3 separate regions of the Homo sapiens genome follow, and all the other regions are linked to region 1. Evidence: fine-mapped QTL for protein levels in blood plasma. A gene starts in region 1. Each other region holds a variant in brackets. All regions are shown on one strand. Distances are between the middles of the regions.

The links. PIP is the posterior inclusion probability: the model's chance that the variant is causal. The UK Biobank Pharma Proteomics Project read protein levels with antibody pairs (Olink). The fine-mapping took linkage between variants from a reference panel, not from the people measured, so its PIPs are less certain.
Region 2: its variant is fine-mapped to the plasma level of the GPNMB protein (UK Biobank, PIP above 0.99). The variant lies in the coding sequence of GPNMB. If it changes the protein, the assay may bind it differently, which can mimic a change of level.
Region 3: its variant is fine-mapped to the plasma level of the GPNMB protein (UK Biobank, PIP above 0.99).

Annotation. Positions count from the first base shown.
Region 1 is chr7:23,243,073-23,250,463 of GRCh38, forward strand. It overlaps GPNMB (glycoprotein nmb), which reads left to right and starts at 3,703. Exons shown (of 11, transcript NM_002510.3): 1 at 3,703-3,855. The coding sequence starts at 3,786. RefSeq lists an enhancer at 5,155-5,274.
Region 2 is chr7:23,262,515-23,269,905 of GRCh38, forward strand. GPNMB (glycoprotein nmb) reads left to right here. Exons shown (of 11, transcript NM_002510.3): 7 at 4,003-4,101; 8 at 5,372-5,474. Among named protein-coding and RNA genes, the nearest start is that of GPNMB, 19 kb to the left of the region's middle. The variant G/A (reference allele first, on the strand shown) is at 4,008.
Region 3 is chr7:23,330,632-23,338,022 of GRCh38, forward strand. All of the region lies in intron 10 of IGF2BP3 (insulin like growth factor 2 mRNA binding protein 3), which reads right to left. Among named protein-coding and RNA genes, the nearest start is that of MALSU1, 35 kb to the left of the region's middle. RefSeq lists a silencer at 5,039-5,333. The variant A/G (reference allele first, on the strand shown) is at 3,259.

The DNA of each region.
Region 1 (7,391 bases):
AGGGGCCAATGAGACAGGAAATGTGGGCAGCCCCTAGAAGCTGGAAAGGCAAGGAAATCAATTCTGCCCTAGAGCCGCCCTGCCAACACTGTGATGTTAGTTCAGTGAGGCCATTTCACACTTCGGCTTCCAGAAATGTAAGATCATAAATTTGTGTTGTTTTCAGACTCCAAGTTTCTGACCATGTGTTGGGAGAAAAGGATCTTAACTAATTTTTATGATCTTGCTTACAAACACCAGTTTAAATTGAGCAATTCCTAAAATTAAAGATGTTAATTCCTTTTTTTCTTTCCCTGAAAAACTAAGGAAAAACATTTTGGTAGGAGAGTAATTTCAAAGCTTAGTAAATCTGGAGACAGTTCAAATACCAGTTTAAACTGAGCAGTTCCTAAAATTAAAGATGTGAATTCCTTGGCAGCCTGCCGGGATTCCTGGGTGTGCCTGCTGCCTGCCATTTCGAAGGTCTCCTTTGGGGTGGCTGCCTCAGTCCTCACAGCTCAAGCATCGCTCCTCAAGTCGGGACTGTGGCCACCAGGAGGAGTGTCAGAAGCCAAGAGAAGGCAATTTGGGGCATTTCTCAAAAGTTGACTATTCTGGTCGGGCGCGGTGGCTCACGCCTGTAATCCCAGCACTTTGGGAGGCCGAGACGGGCGGATCACGAGGTCAGGAGATCGAGACCATTCTGGCTAACACGGTGAAACCCCGTCGCTACTAAAAATACAAAAAATTAGCCGGGCGAGGTGGTGGTCGCCTGTAGCCCCAGCTACGCGGGAGGCTGAGGCAGGAGAATGGCGTGAACCCTGGGGGGCGGAGCCTGCAGTGAGCCGAGATCGCGCCACTGCACTCCAGCCTGGGCGACAGCGAGACTCCGCCTCAAAAAAAAAAAAAAAAAAAAAAAAAAAAGTTGACTATTCTTTGCTTTCCTCCACATCATTTCCGAACAGAGTAATTGTATCTGTAATTCCAGATAATTGAGATGTTTCCCTTTTCATTTCTCAATTGCCTTAAGGCGAGTTGATTAGCAACCTTCATCCCCCCAGCCATATAATATATTTACCAGACCTGGCAATTAGGATCTGAACGGAACAATTTTTCTTTCTTTTCTTTTTTCTTTTCTTTTCTTTTCTTGTCTTTTCTTTCTTTCTTTCTTTCTTTCTTTCTTTCTTTCTTTCTTTCTTTCTTTCTCTTTCTTTCTTTCCTTTCTTTCTCTTTCTTTCCTTCCTTCTTTCTTTCTTTTCTTTCTTTTTCTTTCTTTCTTTCTTAAGAGATGAAGTCTCACTACATTGCCCAGGCTGGACTCAAACTCCTGGGCTTAAGCAATCTTCCCGCTTCAGCCTCTGAAGTCACTGGGACTTCAGGTACACATCAGTACACCAGCTCAAAAAATTATTTCAACAAAATATTTCAAACTTTCTTTACAGTATAATTTTATCTTTCCAAAACAAACAAACAGGCTTGAGAATATTCTTTACCCAAAATGGCCCTGTCTCTGAGTCCTACATAGAGTTAACTACTTTATATATTATCAACCATTGATTATCAAGAAACAGATTATCCAACTTGTAGTTCTTTGGAATGAAGATCTTTCTCTTGTTCTCTTATTCACCTCTGTCCAGCTGCCTACATTTTGACTCTTGTCCTATCAGTGCCTCTTCTCTTTGATGGTGCAGGGAAGGAAAAAAGACATAAAAGTTGATTTGATCATTGTGTCTCCCTAAACAAAACGAAGGTTTTGTTACAGAAGAATTTAACACTTCCAATTTATTTAGAGACGGGGTGGCTAATCTGGCTAGAAATATGAGCCAGAACTGTGTCTGCAACAAAGGACAAAAATATCTTTAAAAATGTTAATAGTAGCTTTTCCTTAAATTGAAAAGGTGTTTTTTTTTAATTGTAAAAGTTATGTGTTTGTCATAAAAAGCAAATAGTGCTGTAGGCAGCTGAGGTGGGAAGATCACTTGAGGCCAGGAGTTCAAGACCAGCCTGGGCAGCATAGTGAGATTTTTGTCTCTACAAAAAATAAAAAGCAAATAAAAAATTAGCCGAGTGTGGTGGTGTGTGCCTGTAGTCCTACCTACTTGGAAGGCTGAGGTGGGAGGATCACTTGAGCCTAGGAGTTCAAGGCTGCAATGAGCTATAATCATGCCACTGCACTCCGGCCTGGGCAACAGAGTGAGAGCCTGTCTCTAAAAAAAAAAAAAAAAAAAGTTTTTAAGTAATTTAAAAAGCAAATAACTATATACATTATTCGCTTTACATTACATGAAACTAATAAGTATTTCCATTATTCCTTTATTCATCAATATTTGAAAATTGTTTCAGTCATGAATAATGTGTTCCTTTCGTTGTTTTCCCCTTCATATTTGCTGCAAAGGCTGTAAAAGGCACTCTACAGAGTTGTTTGCCGCCTTAGGGATGGAAGTCAGCCACTCCTGCTGTATGGATTTTAGTTTCATAGGCTATTTCCATTCCTCCTTGACACACTGAACCATAAATCAATACCCCAAGTTTTACCCTCACCTGCAACCAAGGTTTCTACTGCACTGAAAATGGCCATGTGAATGTGAGTTTGAGAAAGGTCACATATGGTAAAGTTTTCATGTTGCCACATTTTCTGCATACTCTGTAACCAGGAATGATTTGACTGTATAAATTTATCTTACAGACACACTTGTTTGTACATTTAATGCCTGCTTTCTATAATATGAAAAAATACACAGAACGTTTTATGCAATTGGCTCTGAGTAATGCAACACATAAATGCTTTGAGAGCAGTTACCAAAAATTATGCAGGTTATTACAAAAGTTATATGGAATTGCACAGATATTCTAAATGTGCTTTTGAGTAAATTTCTCAGCTACCAGAGGCCTGGGCAGCTGTTTCCAGCACATCCTGGCACAACATTCATGTTATCATCCACTTATGTATTCCACAATTTCAAATGATTGATAAGACACCTCCCCCATCTTTGCTTCCTCTTGGAGGAAAAAAATATACAAGCAATCACGAGCACAGGAGCAGGTGGACAACTACATCTTAGGAAAGGGTGCGTAACTGTGAACTCTAAACGTGAGCTGGGTGCCTGATGCAGTATAGGAACCACAGTAAGTCGATAATCAGTGAGGCTGGAGGATTGAAATTTTATTTGGTAAAGAATATTGAGCCAGGCGCGGTGGCTCATGCCTGTAATCCCAGCACTTTGGGAAGCCGAGGCGGGCAGATCACAAGGTCAGGAGATCGAGACCAGCCTGGCCAACATAGTGAAACCTGCCTCTACTAAAAATACAAAAAATTAGCCGGGCATGGTGGCGGGCACCTGTAATTCCAGCTACTCAGGAGGCTGAGGCAGGAGAATGGCTTGAACCTGGGAGGTGGAAGTTGCAGTGAGCTGAGATCGTGCCATTGCACTCCAGCCTGGGAGACAGTGTGAGACTCCATCTCAAAAAAAAAAAATGAATATTGAAATAGAGTCTATAGGAAAAAAACTCCTTGAATCTAGTAAATGTGGAATCACAAAATTGAAATAATGTGCATCTGAAAAGTGAATAAATAGATGCCAAGAAGGAGTGAGTCATAAGCACATGAGTTGTAAGAGGTTGAACTTGAGAGACCAGATCAGGCAGTGCCGCTTAATACCATCACATGATCCTCCCCGAGGCCCTGTATTTAATTAAAATAGAGAGGGAGGCACCACAGATGCCAGAAGAACACTGTTGCTCTTGGTGGACGGGCCCAGAGGAATTCAGAGTTAAACCTTGAGTGCCTGCGTCCGTGAGAATTCAGCATGGAATGTCTCTACTATTTCCTGGGATTTCTGCTCCTGGCTGCAAGATTGCCACTTGATGCCGCCAAACGTGAGTAACCCTTAATTTCTATGTTTAACCCATTCTCTGGCCATTGGCTGAAATGATGGCTAATAATATCCTCTGAACTAGAGGTTGGACTGAAGTTCTTCAGGAAGCTTTCATCTCTGGCTCACTCATCTCTTCTTCTGCAAACTGTTGGGAAGGCTGAAACTACAGCAAAATGCCTCCAGCTCCATTCTTTGCTTTCGGCTCATGGAAAGTAAAAACTATGCTGCCCTTCTCTTGTGAAGCTTCTTTTCCATTGCAATTGCAACCCATTCTTGCCAGACAGTGGTTGGGGGAGGGTTGGACAGCCTCCGGCCACAGAACAAAGCAACTCCACCAACTAAACTATGTCCAGCTTCCATCCAAAAGGGTGGAGACCTCACATGAAATGGGGTCTCCAATCTGGAGGCAAATTTACGAATCTCCCCAGCCCTGAAGCTATTGCTCCTCCTGCGGGGCTTCCTCACAGACCTGCAGGAGCTTGCTGGGAGAGGAGCTGAAGCCCAGGCTCTCTACCCTGGTCAGGCAGGAGAGGCCAGGGCATTTTTAACAATACTGATACCCACGCAATGAAACCGGAATCTTTGGGAGTGGGGTCAGAGGATCCTTGTTTTAAAAGTTCCTCTTGGGATCTGCCTATGCAGCCAGGGTCCAGACCACTGAAGCAGTGTGCAGATTCGCGAGAGGAAGAGAGCTGAGCCGCTGTAACCCTGGGCCTGGGATTGCGGGGACGGGACGGGTGGGAAGCGGCCAAAGGCGCAGCGGCTTCTGGTCAGAGCCGCAGAGGCCTGAGACGTGGGCCGCGCCCCGGCCCAGGAGACCCCGCGGCCGCGCCCTAACCCTCAGTCTCCCGACTGCGACTGCGACCCGGGAAAACGCCTACGTTTTTGGAAAGGAAGTCCCATCACAGGGAGCTGACCCGGTGTCAGCGCGCAGCACGTTCCCGGCCCGCAGTGCGCCGCGCGTCCTCCTAGCAGCCCGCGGAGCCCGGCACTGTGATGGTCCCGCTTCCCACACGAGGCCACGGGCCACAGAGTGGGCAAGGAACTCGCCCCAAGCCACACAGCGGGTAAGTTGAGGAGGCAGCCTTCCATCCCGACCTCTGTCCTTCCTGCCCGGGTTTGGGGTTGGACAGGCTCGGGCTCCCCGCCAGCCTAGGGGCTGGGTCTCCAGTGGCTTTGCTCCATTTCCTCATTTCCTTCAAAACGAGGAGTTTTCGTTTCCTCATTTGCAAAACTGGGTAATTGTGTTCTTGTGAGATCAGCTGCTTGGCGTGAGAGACGTGCATGGTGGGGATTGTTCCTACGGAGGCAGACCTGCACCCACCCTCAGGATACCTCCCAGGACAGGCTACTTTAAAGACGAAGGAACACAGAATAGACCCGATGGGGGACACCTGCTATTATTCCACCCTCTTTCACCAGTCCACTTCGCTCTGCTCAATAAAACAGATTAGCAGGAGGCCGAATCAGCGCTGTCAGCTCGAGAGGAGTCCTCAGCCTCTTGGGCAGTGTAACAAAACCCAGCCATTCACCAGGTTCACCTTGCTCTGGACTAAATATTCTGCCCAGAAAAAAATAAGGGCAGGCAGAATGTAGCAGTGTATCAAGCACTAAAGATTTCCTACCATTTTCCATTCGTAGCCCTGAAGGAAGGAGAAAGTGTGGACAAGGTAGGTGGAGGCAGCCCAGCCACCACCTCTCTGCTGGTGGACACAGCAAGGATGCCAAAGTGTGGAGGCAGAGTCGGCTGCAGCACTGGGTGCGACCTCAAATTTACCTTCACATTGATTGCCCCCAAAACCCACCCCCACAGGCTTTTATTTTTCTTTTAAAATCTGCTTACTATTGGGTTTTTTTTTTTTTAATCAATTTTTTTAGAGACAGGGTCTTACTCTCACCCAGGCTGGAGTGCAGTGGTGTGATCACAGCTCACTGCAGCCTCCAACTCCTGGGCTAAAGGTGATCTTCCACCTCAGCCTCCTGAGTAGCTGGGACCACAGGCACGTGCCACCACACCCAGATAATTTTTGTATTTTTTGTAGAAATGGGATCTTACTACATTGCCCAGGCTGGCCTCAAACTTCTGGGCTCAGTCCTCCCTTGGCCTCCCAGAATGCTAGGACTACAGGCATGAGCCACCTTATCCGGATGGGTTTATTTTATTTTTTAAATTTTTGTAGAGACAGGGTTTTGCCATGTTGCCCAGGCTGGTCTGGAACTCCTGGGCTCAGGCAATCGCCCACCCTCAGCCTTCCAAAGTGTTGGGATTACAGGCATGAGCCATTGCATCCGGCCTTTATTTTTAAATTCAACTTTTTATTGTGAGGTATTTATAGATTCACATACTGTTGTAAGAAATAATACAGAGAGATCCCCATGCACCCTTTACCTGGTTTGCCCCAGTGGTATCATCATGCAAAACAGGACATCACAGCCCAGATATTGACATTGATACAGTGAAAACACAGCAGAGCTCCATCACCAAAGTATTCTCATGGCTATAGATGTATAGCCAAATCTACTTCCCTCTTTCCAAACCTCACCCAGTCCCTGGCAACCACTAATCTGGTTTCCATTTTTATCATTTTGTAATTTCCAAAATTCTATACAAATGGAATTATCCAGTATGTAACCTTTTGAGATTTGCTTTTTTTAAAACCCAACATAATTTCCTGGAACTTTATTGATTTATTGAAGTAACTGCATCAATAGTTTGTTCCTCTTTGTCACAGAGTAGTATTCCATGGTATGGATGTACCACAGTTTGCTTAACCATTCACCCATTAAAGGACATCTGGGTTATTTCAATTTGGGCTATTATGAATAAAGCTGCTATAAATATTCATGTGCAGATCTCTGTGAGAATATCAGTTTTGTTTCTCTGGGATGCATGCCAAAGGGTACAATTTCTTGGTTGTATGATAGTTGCATGTTTAGTTTTGCAAGAAACTAACAGAGTGGCTGTACCATTTTACATTTCCACTAGTAATGTGTGAGCAATCCAGTTTCTCTACATCCTTGCAAGCATTTGATGTTGTCACTGCTTTTTAGTTAGGTCTTACTGATAGGGATATAGTGATATTTCACTACTGGCTAATGATGTTGAATATCTTCTTGTGTGTTTATTTGCCATGAGATGAATGAAATGGTGAAATATCATTTCATTAATTTTTACCAATTTTTCTAATTGAATCCCGTGGTTTTCTTATAGTGAGTTTTGAAAATTCTTTATATATTCTAAATACTAGTCCTTTATTGGAAGTGTAGTTTACAAATAATTTCTCCCAGTCTGTAGCTTGCCTTTTCATCCTCTTTCATGTCATGTTTCAGAGAGCAAAGGTTTTTTATTTTAATGAGTTCCAATTTCCTGTTACGGGTTGTGTTCATGTCAAGTCTAAGAATTCTTGCCTAGTCCTAGATCCTGAAGATTTCACCTATGCTTTTTGCTTTTTTACAGCACCATATGTTGAAAAGGCTATCTTCCCTCCATTGGCTTGTTTTTGCATCTTTGTCCAAAATCAAGCCAGGCACTGTAGT
Region 2 (7,391 bases), 19 kb after region 1:
TCCACTGTTAATACATATAAGTCTATCTCACTTTATCCAGTGGCTGCATAGTGTTTCATAGAATGTATGTACTGTCATTTATTTCACCATTCTCTTTTTTTTTTTTTTTTTTTTTTTTTTTTGAGACAGCGTCTTGCTCTAACACCCAGGCTGGAGTGCAGTGGCACAATCTTGGCTCACTGCAACCTCCACCTCCTGGACTCAAGTGATCCTTCTGCCTCAGCCTCCCAAGTGGCTGTGGCTACAGGCATACACAACCACACCCAGCTAATTTTTTTATTTTTTAGTAGAGATGGGGTTTCGCCGTGTTGCCCAGGCTGGTCTCCAACTCTTGAGCACAGGTGATCTACCCACCCCAGCCTTCCAAAGTGCTGGGATTATAAGCGTGAGGCACTGTGCCCGGCCCACCATTCTCTTATTGATGGATGATTAGATTAATCCTAATTCCAACTACAATTATAACTGTATTGAACAACTTTAAATATACAGCTTCATTCTAGTAATCCTTTAGGAGAAGCAATTTTTTTTATCTACAACTATTAATGATCTTCTTTACAAATAAGAGGACCAGGTATAAAATTCAAAATAAATTACAGATGCTTTTAATATTTAAGTTCCAGAATGGTAAAAGACTTAATGTTAGGTTGTTTAATGTTAGTCTACTTTGAATTGCATTTTTATTAAACTAGCTTGTTTTTCTTATAAACTATTTATATCATAGCATGTTTTAAAAATATATTTGAAGCCAATGAAAAGCTATTTAAAATTTCTGTTGTAATTTCTCCCTAGGTGACACCATAAGATATAAACTAGTGGGCCAGGCATGGTGGCTCACATCTGTAATCCCAGCACTTTGGGAGGCCGAGGCAGGTGGATCACCTGAGGTCAGGAGTTCGAGACCAGCCTGGTCAACATGGTGAAACCCCGTCTCTACCGAAAATATAAAAATTAGCCGGGTGTGGTGGAGAGTGTCTGTAATCCCAGCTACTTGGGAGGCTGAGGCAGAAGAATCGCTTGAACCTGGGAGGTGGAGGTTGCAGTGAGCCGAGATCGCGCCATTGCACTCCAGCCTGGGCGACAAGAGAGAAACTCTGTCTCAAAAAAAAAAAAAAAAAAAGATATAAACTAGCAACCCCTACAAGTTAGTTAAGTTTTATTGCGAAGGAAAGCTGCCTGGCTTTATCTAAAGGTGTTAGATCAATCATAATCAACCCCAAAATGCCTTAAACCAGCATCTCTCTTAGGGAGAGCGAGGAGGGACGTTTCTAAAAGGGGTCTCTTCTAGGGAGCATTTCCAGCTGTACAGGCCATATTAAAGGGCTTGGATGACCAAGTATTATATTATTGTTTGGCCAAAAAATATGTTCTCTCTGCTTTGGTAAGTGGCTTCTTAATAATGCACAGCCGAAAATAGAAATCAAATGCAAATGCAGGAGTGAGGCAGAAGCCAGTTGAAGAGGTGACCCAGGTAGATGTGTTTAAATCTGAGGGCAGATGCATGTGTGCTATTTTTAAGTCACGGAATTCTCTTCACTTAGCTAACAGTGCTATTATTTGTTTTTCAGACTTGTGAACAAATCTGAAAAAAAAAAAAAAAACCTTTTGTAAGACTGATGCTAATTACTGTAATACTCTCTCTATATATAAAATAACATCATATCATAGAGAACTTTCCCAGAGAATCAAGAGCTCTCACACCGTTCTCTGGGCAACAGGGACATAAATACCAAATTAAGGATGAAGTTGACCTTCTTTCTCATCTGTCTTTTAAGGTGTGCGTTTCTCTCCATTAGCCCTTGAATCATACCTTGACTTTATAGACACAATGTTTGCGAAGCTCCATATGCTTTTTTATTTTTATTTTTATTTTTTTTTTGAGATAGAGTCTTGCTCTGTTGCCCAGGCTGGAGTGCAGTAGTGCAATCTCAGCTCACTGCAACCTCTGCCTTCTGGGTTCAAGTAATTCTCCTGCTTCGGCCTCCCTAGTAGCCAGCACTACAGGCATGTGAACCACCATGCCCAGATAATTTTTCTTTATTTTTAATGGAGACTAGGTTCCACCATGTTGCCCAGGTTGGTCTCGAACTCCTGACCTCAAGTGATCCACCTACCTCAGCCTCCCAAAGTGCTGGGATTACAGGTGTGAGCCACCATGCCTGGCCTCCATATGCATTTTAAAAGCATTCTATCTAAGGTAGAATCACTGACTTTTATTATTTGGTCATTTTTTAAGAAAATAAGCTTTATTTCATTTTTAGCACTAAAGTATATGCAGAACAAGAGAAGTTTTATTTTAAAATATGCAGGGTCGTGATTCCATGCTCTAACTTGACAACTAAATTCTGCCTGTCAAGAACTTTCAAAAGAAGAAATTTTATGGTTTTCTGGAGAAGAGCTACTGAACTCGAATGGCCTGCACAAACAATCCTATTGCTGTAGAGTAGATCATCTGAATCTCAGGACAGACAGAACGACTGTCTTGTCATTTCCAGAGGACTAATATGAAACTCAAGGGACATTCCCAAGAGGCTGCCACAGTTCTTCCTGCTGGTAAACCACTGCATTCGATCTAACACAGTGTCTGGGCCTTTCTGGCCTTTACCTGAGCAGCATTTCCCAAAGTGTGTGCCATGGAGCAGTCATTTCTAGACCTGTTCTGAGAACTGCTCTGAGAAATCTGCTTTGGGCACAGGAAAATCACAGGGATGTTCACCCGCTGACGATTCTGAGAAGCCCTGGGGAAATCTCCCAGCCTGCTTCACTCACATGTCACTAAGTTAGAGATGCAGCTCTTATGAGGCTTTGATGTCCTTCCCCAAGACTGAGTCTACTTCACATGTCTTTTGAAATTAAAAAGAAGATTGTATTTTCAGTATCGTTATTTTCTTTCTAGATTTTTTATCTTGCTAAAGGAGCAGCGATGTCTTAATTAGAGCCTGTTAAATTGTAACTAATAGGGCATTAGATTCTTTGCTCTAATTATATTCAAGGCTTATTTTTCAAAAATGTCTTGTATTCCCTCCTTTCCTTCCTCACATCTCTGCTCATCACAGTAAGACTTTTAGAATTTAAGCTTTGGAGCTGTGAGACATCCAAACAGGGAAAGAATGATCTTTTCCCATATTACTGAAAGAAAGAAACTGTGATTTATTAAGTACTCCCTCTGCAGCAGTGATGAGCAGCAGGTTTTATATACTTTATCTCATTTAAGTTTCATAGTTCAGCCCCCAGAGGACAGCAGGTATTGTTCTTATTTTACAGATGAGCAAATAGAGGCAAAAACAGATTAAATGATGTGCCTGTGGTCTCAAACAGCTAAAAACAAGGGAAGCTGGAATTTGAGCCCAGAATACCTGCTTCCAAAATTAAAATATAACTGCATCTAGTATGGCCAGGTTTATTTCTTCATGACCATTGTATCACACATTTTAATACAGTTTCAACCTTTTTTTGAGACGGAGTCTCGCTCTGTCACCCAGGCTGGAGTACAGTGGCGCCATCTCGGCTCACTGCAAGCTCCGCCTCCCAGTTTCACGCCATTCTCCTGCCTCAGCCTCCTGAGTAGCTGGGACTACAGGCGCCCACCACCACACCTGGCTAATTTTTTGTATTTTTTAGTAGAGGCGGGGTTTCACCATGTTAGTCAGGATGGGCTCGATCTCCTGACCTCATGATCTGCCCCCCTCGGCCTCCCAAAGTGCTGGGATTACAGGCATGAGCCACTGCACCCGGCCAGTTTCAACGTCTTATTTGCTTCTTGTGTTCACACAAAATGTGGGATTATGCTTCCTTACATAATTTAGCAATTATAATACCTTATAGCTCTCACATCTGTGTAAATTATGACACATTTAGTTCAAATTTCTATAGCAATTTCATAGTATAGTGTTCCTGATATTTTTCTAAAAAGCAAATGGCAAATGTTTAGATTTTTTATTATATCACATGTATCTTTTATGTTCGTAGCAACTACTCTAAAATCTTATGATTCAAACACCCCAGGACCT[G/A]CTGGTGACAACCCCCTGGAGCTGAGTAGGATTCCTGATGAAAACTGCCAGATTAACAGATATGGCCACTTTCAAGCCACCATCACAATTGTAGGTAAGGCTGAAGATGATGACCAGTGAGGAAGGATGCTAGACTCCACCTAGGGTCACCCACTCTCTCTGCTAACTCTGAAGGGGTAGAGGTAGGTGGTAAGGGCACCCCTCTGCTTGTCTAAGATGACACCACACATGCAAGAGCAAAGACCCCATTCATTTCTAGATTCCCACCTGCCTCCCCGGCCTTCCTTCCACATCCTGGTGGAAACAAGCCTTCTGTGAAGGCCGCATGCTAATGAGCCTGCCCTGGGCCTGTATCCCGCCTCTGCAGCCCAGCCATCTGAATGGGGTATGTAGGGTAAAGGAAGGCTAGCATCGAGTTCCTACAACTTCCACTGTCTTCCCCTAGTTAATTTTCACAAAGTCAGACTTGTATGTGAAAAGGGGAAAGAGCAGGCCACCACACATGGCTGTGCATTTGGGCACAGCCCTAAGGCATACAACAGAGAAGACAGAGGGGAACTGAAGCCCAACCTGTGCTCACCAGTTCTGGGAGTGAGGATGGAGGTGGAAGCCCAAGCAGTGTCCCCTGAGTCCAAGCCACTTGAGAAGCTGGCCAAGGCCTGAGCCTGGGGCTGCGTCTACCCAGGATTACCTTTTCCTGAAACACTTTCCAAGATGGAGTGCTACTTTCTGATGCACACAAAGGCTCTAGGAACAAAAATCTAGGCTGGACTGAAAAACAGTTCAGTTTGACTTTGGAAATGCTGCATGGATATGTATCCTAAGCTATGGGGGTAGATTGCCAGATCTGATGTGTTTCTGTATGGCAAGAGGGCTGTCTTCCTTTTTTAATTTTTTTCACTTTCTGATGTCTTAAGAGCTGTACCTTAGTCCATTCAGGCTTCTATAACAGAATTCCATAGACTGGGTGGCTTATAAACCAACAGCAGGAATTTATTTCTCGTAGTTCTAAAGGCTGGGAAGTCCAAGTTCAAGGTACCAGCACATTCGGTGGCTGGTGAGGACTCACTTCCTGGTTCATAGATGGCAGATAGCAGTCTTCTTGCTGTGTCCTCATGTGGTGGAAGAGGCAAAAGGGCTCTCTGGGGTCACTTTCATAAGGGCATTAATCTCACACATGAAGGCTTCACCCTCATGACCTAACTACCTCCCAAAGACCCCCCTCCTAATGCTATCACCTTGGGGGTTTCAACATATGAATTTCGGAGGGACACAAACATTCAATCTATACCAGAGTGATTGTTTGGCTTTGTTTGATTTCTGTTGTATTTTGATGTGTTTTTCTCTGGGGGTTATTTTGTTAGAGGGAATCTTAGAGGTTAACATCATCCAGATGACAGACGTCCTGATGCCGGTGCCATGGCCTGAAAGCTCCCTAATAGACTTTGTCGTGACCTGCCAAGGGAGGTGAGTATATTATCTCCGACAGAGGCATGGGTGGGTCAACTGAGGACCTCAAGTCTGAACAAAGGCATTGACCACCAGTTACCCCTTTTAAGTTGATTTGAATTCCTATTGATTTGAATTCCTATTTACTGGTAACCCTAGACAGGAAGGTCCCTAGGAGGTGCTATCAAGCACACACATGTTTTGCTACAGTTGAGCAATTGAGAAAGCTTTAACAATTAAGTTGAATAATAATTATGATAACTGTTTGAACACTTAACTGAATTTTTTAACACCTTATACCTGTTCTCATATTGAATCCTCACAACAATCGTATGAGCCTCCCCATTTTGCAGATGAGGCAACTGAGGCCACCAGTGATCACAAAACTTGCCTACCAATGGAATGCTGGTGGCCAGGAGAGAGCAGCTCACAGGAGTGCTCTTAAGCTCCCAGGTAGTTGTCTATGCTAACATTAATAGCAACGCCTGATAATCCTCTCTCTTTAGAATTTACAAAGCTCTTTCCAATGCATTATATAATTTGGTTTCCTATGATTTGGTCATGACCATATGTAATAAACTAAATATAAATGAATGAATATATAAATACTATATCGATTAACTAAATATACATTAGCAAATCATTTGCATATAATATATAAATTACCTGATTAAAATATATGTGTGTGTAGATACATAAATTAATCAGGAGAATGAAGTGGTATGAAGATGTGGCCTTATTTGGTAGAAGAGAAGAGCTAAGAAGCTCTCCACCTTGGGGAGAGGACCAGAATGAGGGTGAGGGTGGCAGAAAACAGTGAAAGCTGACCCAGGGAGTGAAGCTGCTGCGAGAGGCCTGGCTGGTGAGAAGGGGGACTGTCCCCATCCCAGGCCCCGCCCCATGAGTCCAGCATCAGAGCCTGGTCTCTCCATCTAAGAAGGCTGCCATGAGATAGCGGTCAGGACAGCAATGGCAGGTAGCCCAGCATCAAGGACAGATGAGTCAAACCTCTTCTGTTCAAGTCCCAGCTCCACCCCTGGCTGCTTGTATGACCTGGACTCGTTAATCTCTCTCCCTGATTTGTCATCTGTTAAACTGGGGTAATGTTACTTTCTTCAAAAAGCTATTGAGAGAGGCTGGGTGCTGTGGCTCATACCTGTAATTTCAGCACTTTGGGAGGCTGAGGCGGTTGATCACCTGAAGTCAGGAGTTTGAGACCAGCCTGGCCAACATGGTGAAACCCCATCTCTACTAAAAATACAAAAATTAGCCAGGAGTGGTGGCAGGTGCCTGTAATCCCAGCTACTCGGGAGGCTGAAGCAGGAGAATCTCTTGAACCTAGGAGGCAGAGGTTGCAGTGAGCCAAGATCATGCCATTGCACTCCAGCCTGGGCAACAAGAGCAAAACTCTGTCTCAAAACAAACAAACAAACAAAAAAACTATTGAGAGGAATAAGCAAGATCATGTCATATATCTAAAACTCACTCAGAACAAAGGTCTCTGAGGAAAGATAAATAAATAAATAAAATTCAGTGCCCGGCACATAATAAGTCCTGCAAAAACAGCTGCTGCTGTTGCTGTTACACTTCTACAGGAACCTAGGCAGGGCCAACTATGGCATCTAATAATATGTCTGCCTAACACCCAAGCTATCTGCATCTTCGAACATTCTAGGGATGTAGAAGGAATATAGAGGGAGTGAGCTGGGCTTCACGTGGTTTCCATCAGCCCCTTCCCCTGGGGGAGATCTTTTTTTTCTCCTCCACCCCAGGGCCTCACTTTCCTGAGGATGCAGAGAAAGGCATAGCTCAGCGCACAGGCTTGCTTAAGAGCAGATTATAAGACTAACAATTCAGCATCTTATAGTTTGAGTAACAATGAGGTGGAATTCAATTTCATAGAAATGTAATGACTTTCCCTTTGTAAAATGGATC
Region 3 (7,391 bases), 88 kb after region 1:
TGAAAGCAAGCAATGTTGGCCGGGCTGGTCTTGAACTCCTGACCTCAGGTGATCCGCCCGCCTTGGCCTCCCAGAGTGCTGGAATTACTCAGGTAGTTCTTTATAGCGGTGTGAAAACAGACTAATATATACTAGACATACGGTCTAGAATCATACATTGCTTTTTCTTGTTTTTTCTGAGACGGAGTCTTGCTCTTTTGCCCAGGCTGGAGTGCAGTGGCACAATCTCGGCTCACTGCAACTGCAACCTCCGCCTTCCAAGTTCAAGCTATTCTCCTGCCTCAGCCTCCCGAATAGCTGGAATTACAGGTGCACACCACCATGCCCGGCTAATTTTTGTATTTTTTAGTAGAGATGGGGTTTTACCATGTTGGCCAGGCTGGTCTCAAATGCCTGACCTCAAGTGATCCGCCCACCTCAGCCTCCCAAAGTGTTGGGATTACAGGCATGAGCCACTGCGCCCGGCTGCTTTATTTTTCATAAAAGTGAAAGGCATGATTTATACTAAGATGATTTCTTCCTTTCTTTAATAAATTTATTGACCATAAAATACATGTACTACCATGATGATTTGGGACCATGATGATTTGGAACTGTCTGTCAATTTTAAAAGTTTGTGCTCTTTGACTTAGAAGTTCTATTACATAAATTCTTAGAAGTATTTGTACCAAGGCACAGAAGTTTATGTTTAAAAATTTGATTGCATCATTACATGAATTAGTGAAAAATGGAAAACTGAACTTTCTGAAAATCTTTATAAAGCACCTTCAGATATAGCTAAATAACTGTCAGGTGAAGATAAAGGAATTGAAACTTTTAAGTTGCAAAGTATCTTAAACGTGCATAAGATGGGTGTGTACAGATGAGACAGAGTGAGACTCTGTCTCAAAAACAAAAACAAAAAACAAACAAAAAAAGAACTACCCAAGAATGGGTAATTTATAAAGAAAAGGAGTTTAGACTCACCCCTGTAATCCTAACACTTTGGAAGGCCAAGGTGGGTGGATCACCTGAGGTCAGGAGTTCGAGACCAACCTGGGCAACATGGTGAAACCCCGTCTCTACTGAAAATACAAAAATTAGCTGGGCGTGGTGGCGTGTGCCTGTAGTCCCAGCTACTCGGGAGGCTGAGGCAGGAGAACTGCTTGAACCTGGGAGGCAGAGGTTGCAGTGAGCTGAGATTGTGCCACTGCACTCCAGCCTGGGTGACAGAGCGAAACTGTCTCAGAAAAAAAAAAAAAAGAAAAAAAAAAGGAGTTTAATTGACTCAGTTGGCTGGGCAGGCCTCAAAAAACTTACAATCGTGGCGGAAGACAAATGGGTAACAAGGTACGTCTTACTTGGCGGCAGGAGGGAGAGAGAGAGAGTAAGGGATGGGGCAAGTGTCACACCTTTAAACCCTTAGATTTCATGAGAACTCACTATCACAAGAACAGCAAGGGGGAAATCCGCCCCCATGATCCAATCACCTCCCACTGACAAGTGGGAATTACAATTCAAGATGAGATTTGGGTGGGGACACAGCCAAACCATATCAACTAGTTTCCTACAAATGAAAATCACTTAAACTCTATTGTCTCTTCCTTTATATCTTCAATCCCCATCATGTACCTCTTATTTATGTAAGAGTTAACCCAAAATTCAATTCATCATCTCTAATCACCCACCCATCTCTAATCATTTGTTTCTTCAGCACCTGTATAAACAGATGTACTAAATTTGTACCATATTGTTTACAACTTGGCAAAGTTCTCTGGCATACTCCATGTTTTCTAGGATAATGTAACACACTGCAAGTATTAATATAGCTGTTAGCTAAATGAAATCTCCCTTCTGGCTATTCAGCATTTTTAGAACACATACATCAGAAGAAGACTTGCCTTCCTACTAAACTATTATGTGGAGATTTGTGTTAGGGGCCTGTCCTGCACAGCTTGGCCAGATCACTTCTGTTTCTCTTCACCAACAAAGAACACAAAATAAAATTATTTCATTCTTCACTATTTAAGTCAGAAGAACAGCATCTCTCTTTGGAAGATACTATATAACTCACAGCCCCCAGTGTGTCACACAATTACCATGTGTCATTTATCCCTTTATGGCCTTTTTTATTTTATAACTGGATAGACCAAGTGAATTAATGCCAACACTGACTATCAACTGTGCTCAATGTTAGCATTACTTCATCATTCTGGTCCTTGTATCAAGACCATTAAGTTAATCTTGACCATTTTAAAAAAAATTAAGGGTGGGATCTAAATATTTTATCTCACTAAGAATGTCCGTATTATGTTCTTCTGAACAATATACTTGGGGGAAGCTGGTGGTGATAAAGACCTTTTCAATGGTCAAACTAAACCTAATGTGTAACTTTCCCAGATTTACCCCACAGTATTTTGTCATGACTGTGTAATTATTTGTTTCCTGGGCTTTGTTCCAAAAAGAATTTTATGCTGCTTATAAAATACACATAATCTGTAAAGATAAAACAAAGGAGGTGAAGAAATAAGAGCATAGGGAACTGAACACTCAAGATAAGATGAAGCCAAAAATGCTGTTATACAAATCTGGCTTTAAGCTTCCTCGCAGCTAATTTTTTAAAAAGTTAGTTGCATGATTTCCCATGACTATGAGAGAAAAACTATTCATTTACTTATTAAAAAATGACTATTCCTGGTACTGGTTTCAGAGAGCAATTCCTAAATATCCCCAGAGAACACTAATGTAGCAGCATCCTCCTCAGAGTGAAAGCCTGGCCCGAACATGCATGTGTCTTAGCCTGGAACACGTCCAAGGCTGCTGTTGTGAGAAACAAAAACAAAGTTATCTTTCTGACATAGTGATGAAGGGCTGTCCATGTTCTTGTTTTGCTGATGAGAAATAACAAACCCAAAATGAAGCTTAAGCATAAACTTAAGAGAAATGTTGTGTGAAGCTTTGGAAAAGGAATAGTGGCCAGTAGATAAGGGTCAAAAGGACCAAAATGTAACAGAAAAAAAGGGCACATACATGAAGAATCAATGTGTAGACTTTAAAATGTCCTATCCTGGAATGAAAACAGAAGCAACAGAACTTGTCAAATAGAAGCAGCAGAGTTAGAAGCAAACTAAGTGTTTTTCCACACCAGGAGATGCTGCCCTAGAATGACAGACAATGATGTGTGCTGTTGGCAATCATGTCTTGAAGAAAAGTTGACTCATCAGATGTCTGAGGCTTGGTGAAGACATTTCTGAACGTCGTCCAATTCCCTTTGCTCCA[A/G]TTTCCTATCCATGAAGCATCTTCTTAACCAAAGATTACTTTTCAAGAAAATTTTCCTCTGGGAATGTAAGGCAGCTCACATAAATATGCTGTCAACTTTTGCCAATCATTAAATTGGCTCTCTGGTACACTTCATTCTTATATGGGATTCAGAATAAGCCATGAGCCGGGTGCTGTGGTTCACGCCTGTACTCCCAGCACTTTGGAAGGCTGAGGCGGGCGGATCCCTTGAGGTCAGGAGTTCGAGACCAGCTGGGCTGATATGATGAAACCCCATCTCTACTAAAAGTACAAAAATTAGCTGGGCACGTGACTGTAATTCCAGCTACTCAGGAGGCTGAGGCAGGAGAATCGCTCGAATCTGGGAGGTGGAGGTTACAGTGAGCCAAGATCATGACACTGCACTCCAGAGCCTGGGCAACAGAGCGAGACTCTGTCTCAAAAAATAAAAAAGAAAAGAAATCGAGACTAAAATAAGCCTATGCTAGAACAAGCCTGTGTCAGGATTTGGACACCCCAAATAGGCAGATAATTTAAATTTTTACTTGCAAAACTCAGCAGGCAGAGCAAAAGTTATAAGCCTTTTTCACCTGAATTTAAGTCTATGAGACCTAGGTTGGAAAAGGCCCATTAGCGTTACCCAGTCTTGTTACACATTCCTTCCATTTAAGTTAAGGTCTAGTTGCATTGTCTGAACCTTTTCTTGGATACATTCTTTGGGACTGAAGGATGTTCACAGGACATAAGCTGCTTCCCAATGGATTTGTGCCAGATGCCTATCGGCAAAACTTCCTTTGGACTTCTTGGCAGACTCTCAACTACGGCTTGAAATAACAGAAGAACAAAGCTGCTCAACTGAAAGTTTGCATAACTGGTGAAGTCTGCCAATGAGTAATTCCTAATCATCTATCGTGAAGACATACAAGTATGAGCAAACAGTAAGGTTAAGTGTATTTACTTTGTGGGGGACAAAATCTAAGACATCACAAAGGCATGGAGACATGCATGTCAGCCAACATGATCAGCCTCCAGGTACCTGGAAGGATGCCACGGTTTCCCTTTGGCTTGTAAAATAGATACTCCTGGGTTTTTTTGTTGTTGTTTTTAAATGGATTTTGGTCTGGAACTGAAACTAAGTTTACTCAACTCCATGACCTGAACAAAATATTGAAGTCTTTAACATTAAAAAAAAAAAAAAAAAAAAAAAGGCAAAGAAAGTTTTTCACCATAACTAGATAACCAAGGCTTCTCAGAGATAATAAATGTGCACAGTGAGTTACTTACTTAGAAATTGTTTACCAACAAAAGAGTTGCACCCACTGTGAGAAATCTTAAGGAGGAAGACTAAGAGACTCCCTGAAACACTCATCTGATTTAAAAAATTCCTTCCAACTCATAATTTTTTTTTTTTTGGACAAGGTCTCACTCTGTCACCCAGGCTGGAGTGCAGTGGCTCAATCACGGATCACTGCAGCCTTGACCTCCCTGGGCTCAGGTGATCTTCCTACTTTAGCCTTCCAAGTAGCTGGGATAGGCAAAGGCCACCACCCCCGGCTAATCTAAAAAAGTTTTTTTTTTTTTGTAGAGACAGAGTTCTCCCTATGTTGCCCAGCCTGATCTCAAGCAATCCTCTTACCTTGGCCTCCCAAAGTGCTGGGATTACAGGCATAAACCACCGCGCCTGGCCCTTTGTTTCTTAAAGAGTACCTTAAGCCTAAAAAAGTGCTAATCTCTCTTGCCTCTTTCATAAGCAGAAAGCTAGCCATTTTAAGATTACACTATCATTTTGGAGACTTCTGAGAAGACTCCAAAGAGGCTATCAAAACTGAAGCCAGCAGCCCTTGGGATTACTTCTGCCAATCCAACTGTATGCTGCCAAGACCATCCAGCTAAGGCGACACGCACTATGCCAATTCCAGCTCTTGCTCTGCTTCACTAGCTGCCAATTCCTTCTTCCCTACTGTTTGAGCATTTCTGAAAGGCGCGTTTCCTGTCATTTATAAACTCGAAGTTTGCCAGTTAAGTACTGTACGAGCCAGCTGCTAGGCAGGAACTAGAGACTTTTTGTCTGTTGGAAGAACCAACTCTTTGGCTCTGGGGAGACTCAACCTGGCAAGTTCTGGGAAGAAGAGAATATTGTGGGGGAACTAGTAGGCAAAGTTCTAGAATGGAATAGAGGCAAGGGATTTATCCAAAGAAGAGATGCATCATTTCTACTTTCATGCTACAAAGCAGGAATGAGAAAACATGAGTAGAGAAATGCAACAATTCTAAAAGAAAAAGGAAGTAGTATATATTAAAAAAAAAAAATTATTTGAAACATTTAGCCATCAAAACCTACTTCTTGACAGGCAATATACATTTAAAATAAAAGCAGAAGTTCACTGTTAACCTACAAGACATCAAGGATAAACACGATCTTAGTACGTAATCTGTGATAGCTTCAAAGGAACAGCAAGCTTCTCATCAGCAAGTATAGATACCAGAATGCAGTTCAGGAACAGTTTAAAAGTGCTGAGAGCAAAATGCCCGTCCATCTTTAACTTTCTAAACCATTTTTTTTTTTTTTTAAATAACATCATAGACCCTCACAAACATAAAACAGTATGTTCTTTTTTTCTCTTCTTTTTTTTTGAGACAGAGTCTTGCTTAGTCACCCAGGCGGGAGTGCAGTGGCACGATCTCGGCTCATTGCAACCTCCACCTCCTCGGCTCATCGCAACGCCTGGTTGTTATCATTGCTTCTTTTTGGCTTCATTTTTCTTGCTAAAGAATAGGCCGGCTGCAGTGGCTCACGTCTGTAATCCCAGCACTTTGGGAGGCCGAGATGGGTGGATCACTTGAGGTCAGGAATTCGAGACCAGCCTGGCAAACATGGTAAAACCCTGTCTCTAATAAAAATACAAAAATTAACCAGGCATGGTGCTGCGCACTTGTAATCCCAGCTACTCGGGAGGCTGAGGTATGAGAATCACTTGAACCCAGGATGCGGAGTTTGCAGTGAACCGAGATTGCGCCACCACACTCCACCCTGGGTGACAGGGCAAGACTCTGTCTCCAAAAGAAAAAAAAAAAAGAAGCAATGATAAGCAAAGAAACTGGTAAAGCTTTGGGAAATTTACTGCCTTTAAAAACAATAGTTTATTTGTATTTCAAAAAGTGGTGACCACTAGGTACACAAAATAGTTAAGTATTAGTGATTTCGGTTTAGAAAAAGAACAAAGTCTAAAAATAGTGAAGGCAAAGCTATTCCAACTGAGTACTTGCAACCACCCCCCACCCCCTGCAACTTGAAGTTATATACTCAAACAACACTTGTTAAAGAATTGTTCCCCTGAACATTAAGCCAGAAAATTGCCTAGCAGCTGTTTGAAAGTAGAATTTACTCTAATTGTATCCAGGGACAATATGATTTTCTGAATAATGGTGTTTTCTCTTTATTTAGATGAAAATAACCACAGGAATGGGAATCTGGAATATGGAATTTTCTCCTCCAGAATTTAGATTCTGCTTTTTGAGAGAACTTAAAAGCTTGCTTCCTCTCTTCCAGGCTCTGGGAGGCTCCTTTAACAGGCAATAGTGCCAAATCCAGTGAAGCAGACAAATAGCTGTCCCCAACATGTATTTTCCTTTAGTAACAGATCCTGTGTTTAATGGGCACATTGCTGCCCTCACACAGGGATTGTCTCCCAGCTTCTCTTGCAGCTAGACACAGCCAGTGGTATGTTCTGGCCAACATGAGGCAAACAGAAGTATGAAAAGCTATCCTCAGGCAGTGTCCTTAAATAAGGATGCTGCCAATTTTGATCCTTTATCCTTTTTTCAGTTTGAAATGAGGTCTCACCACATTGCCCAGGCTGGACTGAAATTCCTGGGCTCAAGCAATCCTCCCACCTCCGCCTCCCCAGTAGCTGGGACTACAGGTGTCTGTCACCACATCCAGCAATCCTTTATCCTTCTTGTTGGCTGGAAACAGACCCAATAGTTGGAGCTTGAGCAGTTATCCTGGGCCAGGGAATGGCACACAAGGCAGATAGAAGCACCAGTCCTGAAGGATATGGTGGAACCACTTCCAGCCTTGGATTGTCTACCCTTGAACTCTTCTCATGAAAAAGGAAAACGAATTTAAGCCA